2 separate regions of the Homo sapiens genome follow, and region 2 is linked to region 1. Evidence: fine-mapped expression QTL. Tissue or cell type: thyroid. Region 1 holds a variant in brackets; the other region holds the start of a gene. All regions are shown on one strand. Distances are from middle to middle.

Region 1 (5,922 bases):
GAACATGGTTTCCATTATAACCACTGGTTAGGGCCCCAGATGAGCCTGTAAAAAGTGTTTAATCCAGAATATGGCTGAGATATTGTATACTTTGCAGTGAAAAGTAGTTGACAAAACTCTAACACTCTGCTGTCCCAACACCAGCCTTAAAGCAGAAGAAAAGTGACATCATAAGAATTTCACGTTTATTTGGATCCTTTGAAGTGGGTTTCAGGGTAGGACATTTTCCTGTGAATTGTAAAAGAGACTTTGAGGCACTTCCTAGGGACTTAGGGTTGGCTCTGCTGTGTCTGACTCTGCGTCTACACTCGCCAGGCCTTCCTCTGGGTGGCTTCTCTGCAGTCGGGACAGGTACTATTGGTAAGAGAGGCCTTGCCTGGCTCACACACAGGCCCTACATGCTCAGTTGCTGTGCTTCCAAGTTCACAACAGATAATGGGGATTAACTTTGAACATGACCTCAAGACCCAGATTATGACCTAGTGATTCTGTTGACCTTAAAAACCCTGATGATGTGGCGGAAGATCTAATGAAAAGAAAATCAGGCCGGGAGCGGTGGCTCACGCCTGTAATCCCAGCACTTTGGGAGGCCAAGGCAGGCAGATCACTTGAGGCCAGGAGTTCAAGAGCAGCCTGGCCAACGTGGTGAAACCCCGTCTGTACTAGAAATACAAAAAATTAGCCAGGCATGGTGGTGCACCTGTAGTCCCAGCTACTTGGGAGGCTGAGGCATGAGAATCGTTTGAACCCGGGAGGCAGAGGTTGCAGTGAACCAAGATCATGCCGCTGCACTCCAGCCTGGGAGACAGAAAAAAAGAAAATCAAATAGCCACTGGCAGTTGAATGGAGCCTGTGGCTGGGGCTGCTCTTTCAAATTCCCCCGATAGGAAGCCACAGAGAAGTTCTGTCAGAAGTAGGCTGACATTTTAACAGACGCGGGGTGACCCAACCACAGATCCTCTGCAATGAAGCTTGAATTTATCTCCTGAGCCCCGTGGCCTCAAAGTCTCTAAATTCAAGAATCTTCCCCAGGCTTTTGCTGTTGACATCTTGGGGCATTTGACTCAAGTAACTCTTTGGAGACCCTCCTCCTCATCCCCACCCCTGGAGAAATCACTTGGGGGCAAACCTCAGTGACGCTCTGTGAGAGGGCTGCAGGGCACACCTGTGCCAGAGACGCCAAGGGAGAACCGACATGTAAACGTCTCTCTGTCCTGGGTCAGATCAAATGGCACAGGCTTTGCCCAGAGGTCTTTTTGTTTCTCCTGCAGCAGTGGGTGGGCAAGGATTTTACTCAAGGAGTCAGTGTTGAAGAAAAACAAATGCCCAAACAGAAGAAGAGGCACAAGTGGCAGCAGAGACAGTAGTAACAGCTGCCGTTTACTCGGCAATCATTCCGCAGGCCAGGCCCTCCATTATACACTAGATCTGAGCCCACAGCCGCCCCTTCGAGAAGGGAGGCAGCGGTAGGTCTGCTGCAGCCAGGAAGTAGCCCAGCTCGGATTTGAACTTGTGTCTCATCTGGCTGCAAAGCCCGCACTCCTCTGTGCTGTGTCAGGATTGAGGAATTCATGAAAGCAGATGTGAAAAAGGATCAGGGATCTGAGGGTGACCACAAGCTAAACATGAATCCACAAATGTGACAGAGCTTTCCCAAAAGCTAGTTTGGATGCATTAACAGAAGTAGAATATCTTCAATGCGGGAGGGAGGAGTCCTCCCCTAGGCTACCGTGGCTGGAGAACAGTGGTTCTGGCCACCTCCCTTTAGGAAGAAAATGGGTGATGGGTGACAAACTCAATGCCTATGAAGCCCGGACAGATACCAAAAATGACGTGGGCTGTGTTTAATGCAACGGGGAGTGGTGAGGACTCTGGCAAACTGCTGCTACCCGGTAAGGCTTCTAGTCCATTTTTGCTAAGTAGAAACAAGGGCTAGATTTTCTGACTTTTCGGGAGAGGCTGGAAATCTGAACTTTTAAATAGATTTTATGAATTCAAAGTAAAATATTCCGGGGCCAAATATAACTTCCACAGGCCCTTTTTAGTCGCTGAGCTACCAGTCTGTGACTTCTGGAGAGCAGCACAGGCCACAGGAGGCAGCCAGGGCCAGGCTCTAGTCCTGTGAGGGACCTGAGGAACAAGGGCGCTTGGGCCCGGGGAGGAGCAGACACAGGGTGCGGGCGCCCCTGTTTTCACACATCTGAGTCATCATGTGGAAGAGGAAGTAGATGTATCTTGTGGGAGCGCAGGGGAGGGCGGAGGACTGATACTCCTCCGGGGCGTAAGAGTTTGACACAACTCAACCTAAAGGGAAAACTTTCTGTCGGCCTGAGGCATCCATGCTGGGACGGACTGTCCTGGGGTGGAGAACATTCCTTAGTGGTGGTGCTGAAGGCTGGAGGCTTTTAGGATGCTGGTGGAGGGTCCACGCAGCCCTGAGGTCCCATGACTCTGTCATTCTCCCGTTTCTGTGCTTTGGAACACAGAAGACGCCCATGTCACCATTCCTACTTGTCTCCCAAGCGCTCTCTCTCTCTGACTGTGTTTTACACTGTTTACAATTTTTTCCCAACTGGTTGTCAAGGCTACAACTCCAGGGTTCCCTCCTTGAGTCTCCCACGCTTCCCAAAGTAGCTGAGCCCACCCAAACGCAAACTCCACGAGGAAGGCTCCACCACGATCTCACCCCCATCATCGCCGCTCTGAACTTCCTTCCACATGGCCCTCAAGCCGACTGGGGCTCAGCCGACTCTATCTCCCCGAGCGTACCTCCTTCTGGCGGGCCAAGCGTTCCTCCAGCTCTTGGACTCTTGTCTGCTCTTCCTCTAATGCTTCCTTCACTCTGTTCTTCTCCTGGGTAATGCTTTTCGCCAAAGCCTGAGTCAACGATCATTGTTCAATAGACATGGTTACCATGGGAGGAAACTGGACTCTGCCAGGCACCGCACAGGTTTCCTCTTCCCTCCAGACTACACCTCCCTAGGGGACTGTGGACAGCACAGCCCTGGAGCTCAGAGCCGGCGGGCCCAGACCAGAGCCCCAGATCCACCCTTCCTAGCTGCAGTGGGGCTCGAGCTGACTCTGTCTCCCTGAGCCACATACCTTCTTCTGCTGGGCCAGGAGGCTCTCCAGTTCTTGCATTCTCTTCCGTTCTTCCTCTAAAGTCTCTTTCGCTCTGTTTCTCTCTTGAGTAATGTACTCCTCCAAAGCCTGGAAACCAATGACCATTGTTTAACAGACATGGTTACCATGGCAGGAATTTGGACGCTGCCAGGCACTGCATGTGCTACCTCTTCACTCCTCAC[C/T]GCACTCCCCTGGGGAGGCTGTGGGCAGCAGAGCCTAGGAGCTCAGAGCATGTGCTCTGGAGTCAGGAGACCCAGGGTAGAGCCCCAGGTTGATCCTTTCCAGCTGTAAGGCACTGGGGAAGTGAAGCTACCAGAGCCTCAGTTTCCCTGCCTGTACAACGGAGACAGTAATAGTCTTCCTGTGTTGGGTTGATGTGAGGGGTGGATGCGACGATGAACACGAAATGCTTGGCACAGTGATAACCATGCTTCCCACCTTGCAGAGGAGGAAACAGGCTTACATTCAAGAATCCACCCAGTTTACTAGTAAATCACAAGAGGAGGGATTCTAACTCTGACCCATTTGATTCTGAAGCCTGTGTTCTAAACCAGAGGTTAGCAAACTATGGCTTACAGACCAAATCTGGTCTGTTTTTGTAAATAAAGTTTTATTGGAACACTGTGCTTGCTGTGTATTGTCTATGGCTGCTTTTGCAGAAGAGCAGAGAGCATATGACCTGCAAAACTGAAAATATTTACTATCTGGCTCTTTATGGGACAATTTGGCCAATCCCTGATCTAACCCATTGGTGTGTGCACAAACCAAGGGATTGTTGTCAACAACTGGCAATAAGAAAAGAATGTTAGATTGATAAAGGAACATAGAATTTTTTTTCCCTTTGAAACAAAGTCCTCAAACAAGTCAAGATTCATGAGATTAATGACCCTGGACACATGTATTTTCGGAAAGGGCAGGTGATGGGAGTCAGAAGGTCTAAGGAAGGCTCATTTAGTCAGGACACTTGGCACTGAAGTCCAAGAGGTAACTTTCCAAGGAGTCCCCAGGGTCAAGTCCATCAATCCGAGTATCAGAGGAAGGGCGACCTTCGAGTGTCACAGTCTGTCTGGCAGGGACCTGATGTTGCTTCCTCCCTCTGCAAGGAGGGTAGGGTGCACCGAGGTTTTCAGGTTTAAAAGAGGGGCTGACGCCAGCTCTTAAAACACTCTGCCAGGCCAGTGTCGCCAGGGTTGTCTAGGAAGACTAGGCAGGCGCCCAACGCAGTGTTTAACATGGTGGGGCTGAAATACCAAACCCTGACAAGGGAAAAAGTCCATCCAAAATTAAAAAGAGAAAATAAGGCATTTGGGATGCCGATGTTAAAAGGAGAAGGTAATCAGAGAAGAAAAAAGGAAGTCGGTGGAGAGTTCTGCGAAGATTTTGAAGATTTCTAGGTACTTTCTGGTTTTATTTTCTTCTCTATGGAACGGTGCTGGCTTTTTCCGTATCTAAATGCCCTTCAAAATGTGCCCATCTTGATTTATAGCTATCATTAATATTACCTTTATGCGGATTGCACATGATTTGGTCAGATGGCTCTTCTTTTTTAATCTTTTATTTCGCAAATGCAGAAAAGCAGAGAAAGAGGCAAAGAGAAGAAGGAGGAGGAGACTGATGTTTTGGGGTAACTGGACACACATGTGAGGATGGAGATGAAAGAGGGAGAGGTCTGGAGGGCAGGTGTGTGTGGTAGAGAAGGAGCTGGGGAAAGATGGAGAAGGGGGCAGGTCCAGTACTCTTCCGGGGAAGAGAGGAGATATCTGGGAAGAGTTGGGGTCCGGTGGATCTGGGGGGCTGCTGTCTTGAGGGGGCTGTGAGGAGGGGCAGCATGCACACGCTGCTCCACACCCACCCACAACAGTGGCTCGCAACCGTGGCTGCACTTTGCGACCACCCGGGAGTGCTTAGAAATCCCACAGCAGGGGCCACACCCTCACCCCACTAAGATCAGAATGTGGAGAGTCGGCGGGGAGAGGTGCAAGGCATTAGTAATTTTTAATCTCCTAAATGACAAAAGTCATAAAGACAGTGAAATTCATGGGAGGGGTCCCTGAATATCAAAAAGGGCCAACCCTCAGGTATGGTGGCTCATACCTGTAATCCCAGAACTTTTGGAGGCTGAGGTGGGAGGATCACTTGATGCCAGGAGTCTGAGACCAGCCTGGGCAACATAGAGAGAGACCTCATTTCTACAAAAAATAAAAATATTAGCTGGGTGTGGTGGTGTGTGCCTGTGGTCCCAGCTACTTGAGAGACTGAGGTGGGAGGGTCACTTGAGCCCAGGAGTTCAAGACCAGCCTGGGCAACATTGCAAGATCCCATCTCTACAAAAAAAAATAATAATTAGCTGGGTGTAGTGCCATATGCCTGTGGTCCCAGCTACTTGGGAGGCTGAGGTGGGAGGACCACTGCAGCCTGGGAGTTCGAGGCTGTGGTGAGCTATGGTCACACTATTGCACTCCAGCCTGGGCAACAGAGCAAGACCCCATCTTAAGAAAAAAAAGGGCCAACTCTAGGACAGTGATGAGAATCAGCTCATTAAATAATACAGTTTCCTGGCCCTCTCCAGATGTTCTGATTTAATGGGTCTGGAGGGTGGAGACCAAGATCTGCATTTTTAGCAAAGCATCTGGATGGTTCTTATCAGGAAACTTTGGGAAAACCTTCCTCTAAGCCTTCGCCCTAAGAAAATGTGGATCTGCAGACTGGTAGCGTCAGTACCATCTGGGAGCTTGTTGAAAATGTAGCGTCTCAGGCCTGCTGAGACAGAATCTGCATCTTAACCAGATCCCCAGACAA
Region 2 (5,922 bases), 98 kb after region 1:
TATCCTCCACCTCAATTCCTTGTCAAAGAACAACAACAGTCTCTCTCTTTTCCATTCAATTGAAAAGTCAGTGAAATGACAAATTATTGGACTATGGGTAAAAACAAAAATCAACTAGTTGTGGTGGTACGGACTCTCGGGGCTGGCTCTGCTTTTCATCATCATCTCTATCATCATTTATGGAGTCCTTAGTAAGTGCCAGGCACTTTTCCTTGAATATACTCTTTTCATCCTCAGAGAAACCCTGCAAGGTGGGTGTCATTATTGTCCCTACTTTACAGAAAAGGAGACTGAGATGCAGAGAGGTTAAGGTCCCCTAGCATTCGGGCAGGGAGATTGCCATTGCATGTCACCACTACATAATCCTCAGGCAGCTCAACTTTTCACACCTCCATCACTGCTGGGTGGGGAGGGGATGGGATGGGGGAGCAGAGAGAGTGACTGAGTGGGGGGAGGGAGAGGTTGTCACTTGGGATAGTGGGGTTGTCACTGTTTTGTTGACACTTAGGACATGAAATAACAGATAGCCCTTAACACCAGAATTCTATCCTCTGCAAAAAAAGAAAAGACCCTTGGGAGTAAGAGAAATAAAAACAAGCCAGATAGTTTATGTTTGTAAATTCCGAAGCCTATGAGAAATCCTCAGAAATATTAATACTTTCATATAATGAGAATTTTATTTTTAAGTCTGCTGTCTTTAATAGGGATAAAAAGACACTTCTTTTTCCAAAAGAACCATGCCCTGTTGCCCTCAAATTGCCTGAGTTATTAATCTTCAATTGCAGAGGACTACATCATCAAGCACCACATCCAAACTAAAGTAAAAGTAATCTAAAGTCAACTTTCGAGAAATGTCTCTTTTGTGGGAAAGCCACAGGAAATGCCTCCAGAGTAAAACCCCAAATCTGAATGACTGGCTTTTTTTTTTTTTTTAGCTCTTCCCCCCGATGTTTCCACAGCTGGTGCCTTGCGGTAGCTACCTGACCACCCCAGCTAAAGGCGTCACCAGTCACTTTGTTGTCTAGCTAGCATGTGTCACTGCTGTGGCTCCTTCCTTGAGCTTATCATTCTCTGTCATTTTCTTGTTCTTTACTTAGCTGTTTACTGTTTCCCTTTCACTGAGATACGTTCCAAGAGAGCCCAAACTGTGTTGTTTTTGTTAAACTCAATTCTCCATGGGTTTCCTGTGTTTGTACCCATCTTCAGAGCAAAGACACTGACAGATTTTGTTCCAGACAATCTTCCAAGGACATCTGTAGGGCAAATATCCTGAGAGGATAGGGATAGTGTCCCTATCCAGGGCAGAGTGCAGATTTATGATAAAAATGTCATCTCTGGCTGGGCACGGTGGCTCATGCCTGTAATCCTAGCACTTTGGGAGGCCCAGGTGGACGGATCACCTGAGGTCAGGAGTTTGAGACCAGCCTGGCCAACATGGCGAAACCCTGTCTCTACTAAAAACACAAAAAAATTAGCCGGGCATGGTGGCTTGCACCTGTAGTCCCAGCTAATCGGAAGTCTGAGGCAGGAGAATCACTTGAAACCGTGCAGCAGAGGTTGCAGTGAGCTGAGATTGTGCCACTGCACTCTATCTAGCTTGGGAGACAGAGCAAGACTCTGTCTCAATTAAAAAAAAAAAAAAAAGGTCATCTCCTTCCAGGGCAAAGGTTGGGCACTGGCTAGCAGCCCCTTTTAAAAGACTGGAGTTTCCTGAGCTTGGGGTTCCTTAGCTGGGAAACAGACTCGCAGTGTGCACAGCATCCACCTGAGCTGTCCTGCATCACCCCGGGGTACTTGCAGGGCAAGGGGAACCAACGCAAACATGAGCTCACAGTGCCTGCTGTGCTGTGAGTAATAACATCCTTTGTCTCTGGTCCTGGAGTCTCTGGTCTTCTGCTAGCATCATTAAGCAGTGGCAGGCTAACTTAGCTTGCAAGTAGTGTAAAAATCTCAGACCCTTTGCATTTCCTCACAGTCTGTTCATTACTCCCCTCTGGCCCCCAGCGCTGCCATGCCTGACACATAGTGGTGCTCAGTAAATCATGAATGAATGAAAGTACAAAACAATGCTTAAAAGTAAGTCAGGGTAGCCTAAGAACCTCTGACAGTAACTACCTTTCATTTTCCCCTTCAGTATTTATCCTAGATGACATTCTGGAAAAAAAAAAAAAAGTCTATTTCTTTAGCTGAATGGGTTGGGCCCTATTTCCCCACTTTAATCTTGCCCTGTGCAGTCACTTTCCTACCTGAAAACACTGTAGAAAGTGATTAGATGCGTTAAACTCTGTAAATTAGTTCTAAGACACAGGGCACCGACCATGCAAAAGAGCAAAAGAGCTTCAGGCATCTGCACTCCCTGCTTATAGGTCACAAGTGAGATAGAGAAGCAAAATTTCTGTTGAGGGGTTACCAGATCTTAAGTGGCCTGGGAGCCCTAGAAATTCCTCAGTGTTGTATTTGGGAAGGGAGAGGTTAGGCAAGGGGGGAGTCTCTCTGACCGCCGGGTGGGTGTCGTTCGTAAGTCAGGGGCAGCAGGGATGCCCCTCCTAATCCCAGCTGTAACCCCCAGGACTTCCCAGAGTGGCATGGCTGGTGCCAAGGAGGGTCTAAGGCTCCCGGGGGCTTCCTCCGCGGGCGGGGTGGGGCCTGCATCTGGAAAGGAGGGGCTGGTGTTGGGGTAGCTACTGGGGTGCTCCTGGGGACCGGAGCCTGGATCCAGGAGGATGGGGCCGGGGAGCCACCCCTCCTCCTGCCAGGGCTAGTCCTCGCTGGGCCGCCCCTTCCGGTCCCCGGTCTCGGCCCGCCACCCCTTCCCGCGCCGCACTCACCTGGCGGGAGGAGGAAGCCCACGCTCCGACCTCCGCCGAGAGCCCTGCCAGCTCGGGAGGCGTCGGGCCAGCTCCGGGGCGAAGCCTCCCGGCCGCGCTCCCGCGGAGTCTCCAGCTCGCACCCGGCACCCCGCCCGCCCGGCCGGCCTGTGTACGCGCGTTGCCATGGCAACGCCGCCAGGCGCCGCGGGGTCCAGCCTAATAGATGAGGGCGTGGCCTGCGCGGCAGAGGGGGCGTGGCACCGTGCAGGGAACGCCCACTGGGTTACCGCCTGCTGAATGCTCCAGGCCCCACGAGCCTGCCCCATTTCACAGATAGGAAAGCGGAGGCTCAGAGGTCACAGAAATGGCCCAAGGTTTTACAGCGAGGAAGGAGCAGGGAGGAGATTTGATTCAAGAATCCTTTCCATTACCCCTCACTGTAAGCTGGATGCGTTGAGGGAGGGTCGGGGGCGATAGGGAGAGGTAGGAGATTGATGGAGCTGAACTCATGAGACCCTTGGAGGTTAGTATGCCCCCTGCCCTACCCAAATCTCTAGTCCTTTCCGTTACAGGCCAGAAAATAGAAAGAGTAAGAAGAGGGGATCTCTGGGAGTGGGGTGGGGATTGGGAAAGGGATGGGGTGGAATGAAAAATTTTGAAAGAATGAGGATTTCTTCCATGTGCTGGGGAAAAAATATTTCCAAACTCACAATCCTGCTGCCTCTGCTCCTCCCTGTTAAGAGTGACATTTATTCATTCTTTTGCCCTTTCTCTATCTCTGCAAACATCTTTTGAGTCCTATGAGTGTCACACGCTGATCCCAGAATACACCTGGAACAGTTACTGTCCTTAAGAAACCGCTTGTCAGCCGGCACAGGACTCGCGGGATGGAGTGTGTTGAGCAGATGTGCAAATCCTATCTCCCGCCACTATCTCCAGCAGGAAATCCTATCTCCTGCTGACTCTACCTGGAGAGTGATTCCTTTCACTGGCAGGAAATGGCTGACCAGACACCTCAAGAAAAACTCTAAACGTTTTTCTAAGAGAGATGAACTATGGCACATTCTACCCTAGTGATACGGTTTGGCTGTGTGTCCCCACCCAAATTTCATCTCGAATTGCACTCCCCACGTGTTGGAAGAGGGGCCTGGTGGGAGGTGATTGAATCATGGGGGCAGACTTCCCGCTTGCTTTTCTCATGATAGCGAGTGAGTTCTCATGAGATCTGATGGTTTAAAAGTGTGGCACTTCCCCCTTTGCTCTCTCTCTCTCCTGCTACACCATGTTACAACATGCTAGCTTCCTTGCTTCCCCTTGGCCTTCCGCCATAACTGTAAGTTTCCTGAGGCCTCCCTAGCAGTGCAGAACTGTGAGTCAATTAAACTTCTTTTCTTTGTAAATTATTCAGTCTCAAGGAATTACTTTATAGCAGTGTGAGAACAGACTAATACACCTAGTCAATAGGAAGAGGATCTGAGAGAGAAATCATGGACATCGATTTGTGGTGGAATATACAGTGAAGATGCTCAAACGTGCCTGGAGGCTTTTAGAAATGCGGACTTCTGGGCACAGACCCCAGAGATTCTGATTTAGCAGGCCTGGGACATAATCCAGGAATGTGCATTTGCAACAAGCTTGACAAAACCCTGATTTATGCAGCTGAACTGCAGAGACCTCTCCCGGAGCCTGTCCCTACAAATCTCTTCCAGGCCCTCAGTCTGGAAGGTTCTGCCTGGATCAGTTTCCTACAACCAGAAAGATTCTAGGCGTAAAATGTTAGGAGGGACCACAAGGGCTGGGACCCAAGTGATGGCTTCACAGGAACAGAGAGGGTCAAGCTCAGCTTCCCACACGTTTCTGCCTCAGAGCCTTTGCTCTTGCCCATTCCTCTGCCTGGAATGCACTTCCCCTCAAGAGTCTCCTTTGCCTTCTTTACTTTAGCTTTTTACTCACATATCATCTTTTCTAAAATTGGTTTTTTGAAACAATGAAACAACCACCATGAAATCTAATAAACAACAAAAAAGAGCAAATAAAAACAATAAGAACAGCAAAAGCAAATAAAAATAAGAACAACAAAAGCAAATAAAAATAAGAACAACAAAAGCACATCCAAACAAAATAAAAACCTCAACACTCTATCCCTCTTCCCTTCTTTTTGCCACTTGCTATAGTTAGAATATTTGACCCCTCCAAATCTCATGTTGAAATTTGCTCCTCAGTGTTGGAGGTGGGGCCTGGCGGGAGGTGCTTGGATCATGCGGGCGAATCCCTCATGGATGGCTTGGTGCTGTTCCTGTAGGGTGCATGAGTTCTCACTCTATCAGTTTCCTAAAGAGCTGATTGTTAGAAAGAGCCTGGCACCTCCCCCTCGCTCACTCTCACTTCCTCTCTCATCATGTGATCTCTGCACATGCAGGCGCTACTTTCTGCCAGGAGTGGAAGCAGCCTGAGACCCTCACCAGAGGCAGATGCTGGCACCATGCTTCTTGTACAACCTGCAGAACTGTGAGCCAAATAAACCTCTTTTCTGGATAAATGACACAGCCTCAGGTATTACTTGATAGCAACACAAATGGACTAATACATCACTTATCATCAACTCACATACTATTTCTTTATTTATTTATGTTATTTATTGTGTCTCCCTCCCTGACCCCTGGTAGAATCTAAACTCCATGAAAGCAGGAATTTCTTTTTTCATGTTTTGTTTGCTGCTGTGCCACCAGTCCCTAGAACAATGTCTGAATGAATAAATATGCAGGGGGAAGCCCCTGCCACCCTTCTGAAGCCCGGCCTCCTGTCCTCTGAGGACTGCTGGGCTGACCTGTCCTCGCCCCAGGATGTCGGCTTCTCTAGTCCCCTGCCCAGGCCTGAACACCACCTCCATCCCTACCACCACCCCTCCATGCTTGTCTTTGGTCAAACTCTTGTCATTAACATGAACCCAGGACACAAACTTGCTATCAGACAGACCCCAGTGAAACCCAGGCTGGCCATGAGCTGGAACAGCCCATGCCCCTCACCAGGCTTTGAGAGATCATCTGTTGCTGTTAGCTGATATCTCAATGAAAAACAAAAAATCCTAAACTGAGAGCAAAGCTGACACTCA

Alleles and levels. Positions count from the first base shown, and alleles are read on the strand shown. Sizes are in standard deviations (SD) of each study's normalised expression.
For the expression in thyroid of the gene that starts at base 3,001 in region 2, allele T in region 1 goes with a higher level than allele C (small effect, 0.18 SD a copy in GTEx).

The links. PIP is the estimated chance that this variant, and not a neighbour inherited with it, causes the effect.
Region 2: it holds the start of FHAD1, and the variant in region 1 is fine-mapped to the expression of FHAD1 in thyroid (GTEx, PIP above 0.99).

What each region holds. Positions count from the first base shown.
Region 1 is chr1:15,342,371-15,348,292 of GRCh38, reverse strand. It overlaps FHAD1 (forkhead associated phosphopeptide binding domain 1), which reads right to left. Exons shown (of 34, transcript NM_001391957.1): 17 at 3,103-3,210; 18 at 2,770-2,877. FHAD1-AS1 (FHAD1 antisense RNA 1) reads left to right here and starts at 4,410. Exons shown (of 2, transcript NR_148919.1): 1 at 4,410-4,517. RefSeq lists an enhancer at 2,301-2,500. The variant C/T (reference allele first, on the strand shown) is at 3,306.
Region 2 is chr1:15,244,302-15,250,223 of GRCh38, reverse strand. It overlaps FHAD1 (forkhead associated phosphopeptide binding domain 1), which reads right to left and starts at 3,001. Exons shown (of 34, transcript NM_001391957.1): 1 at 2,829-3,001. RefSeq lists silencers at 2,736-2,975, 2,993-3,166.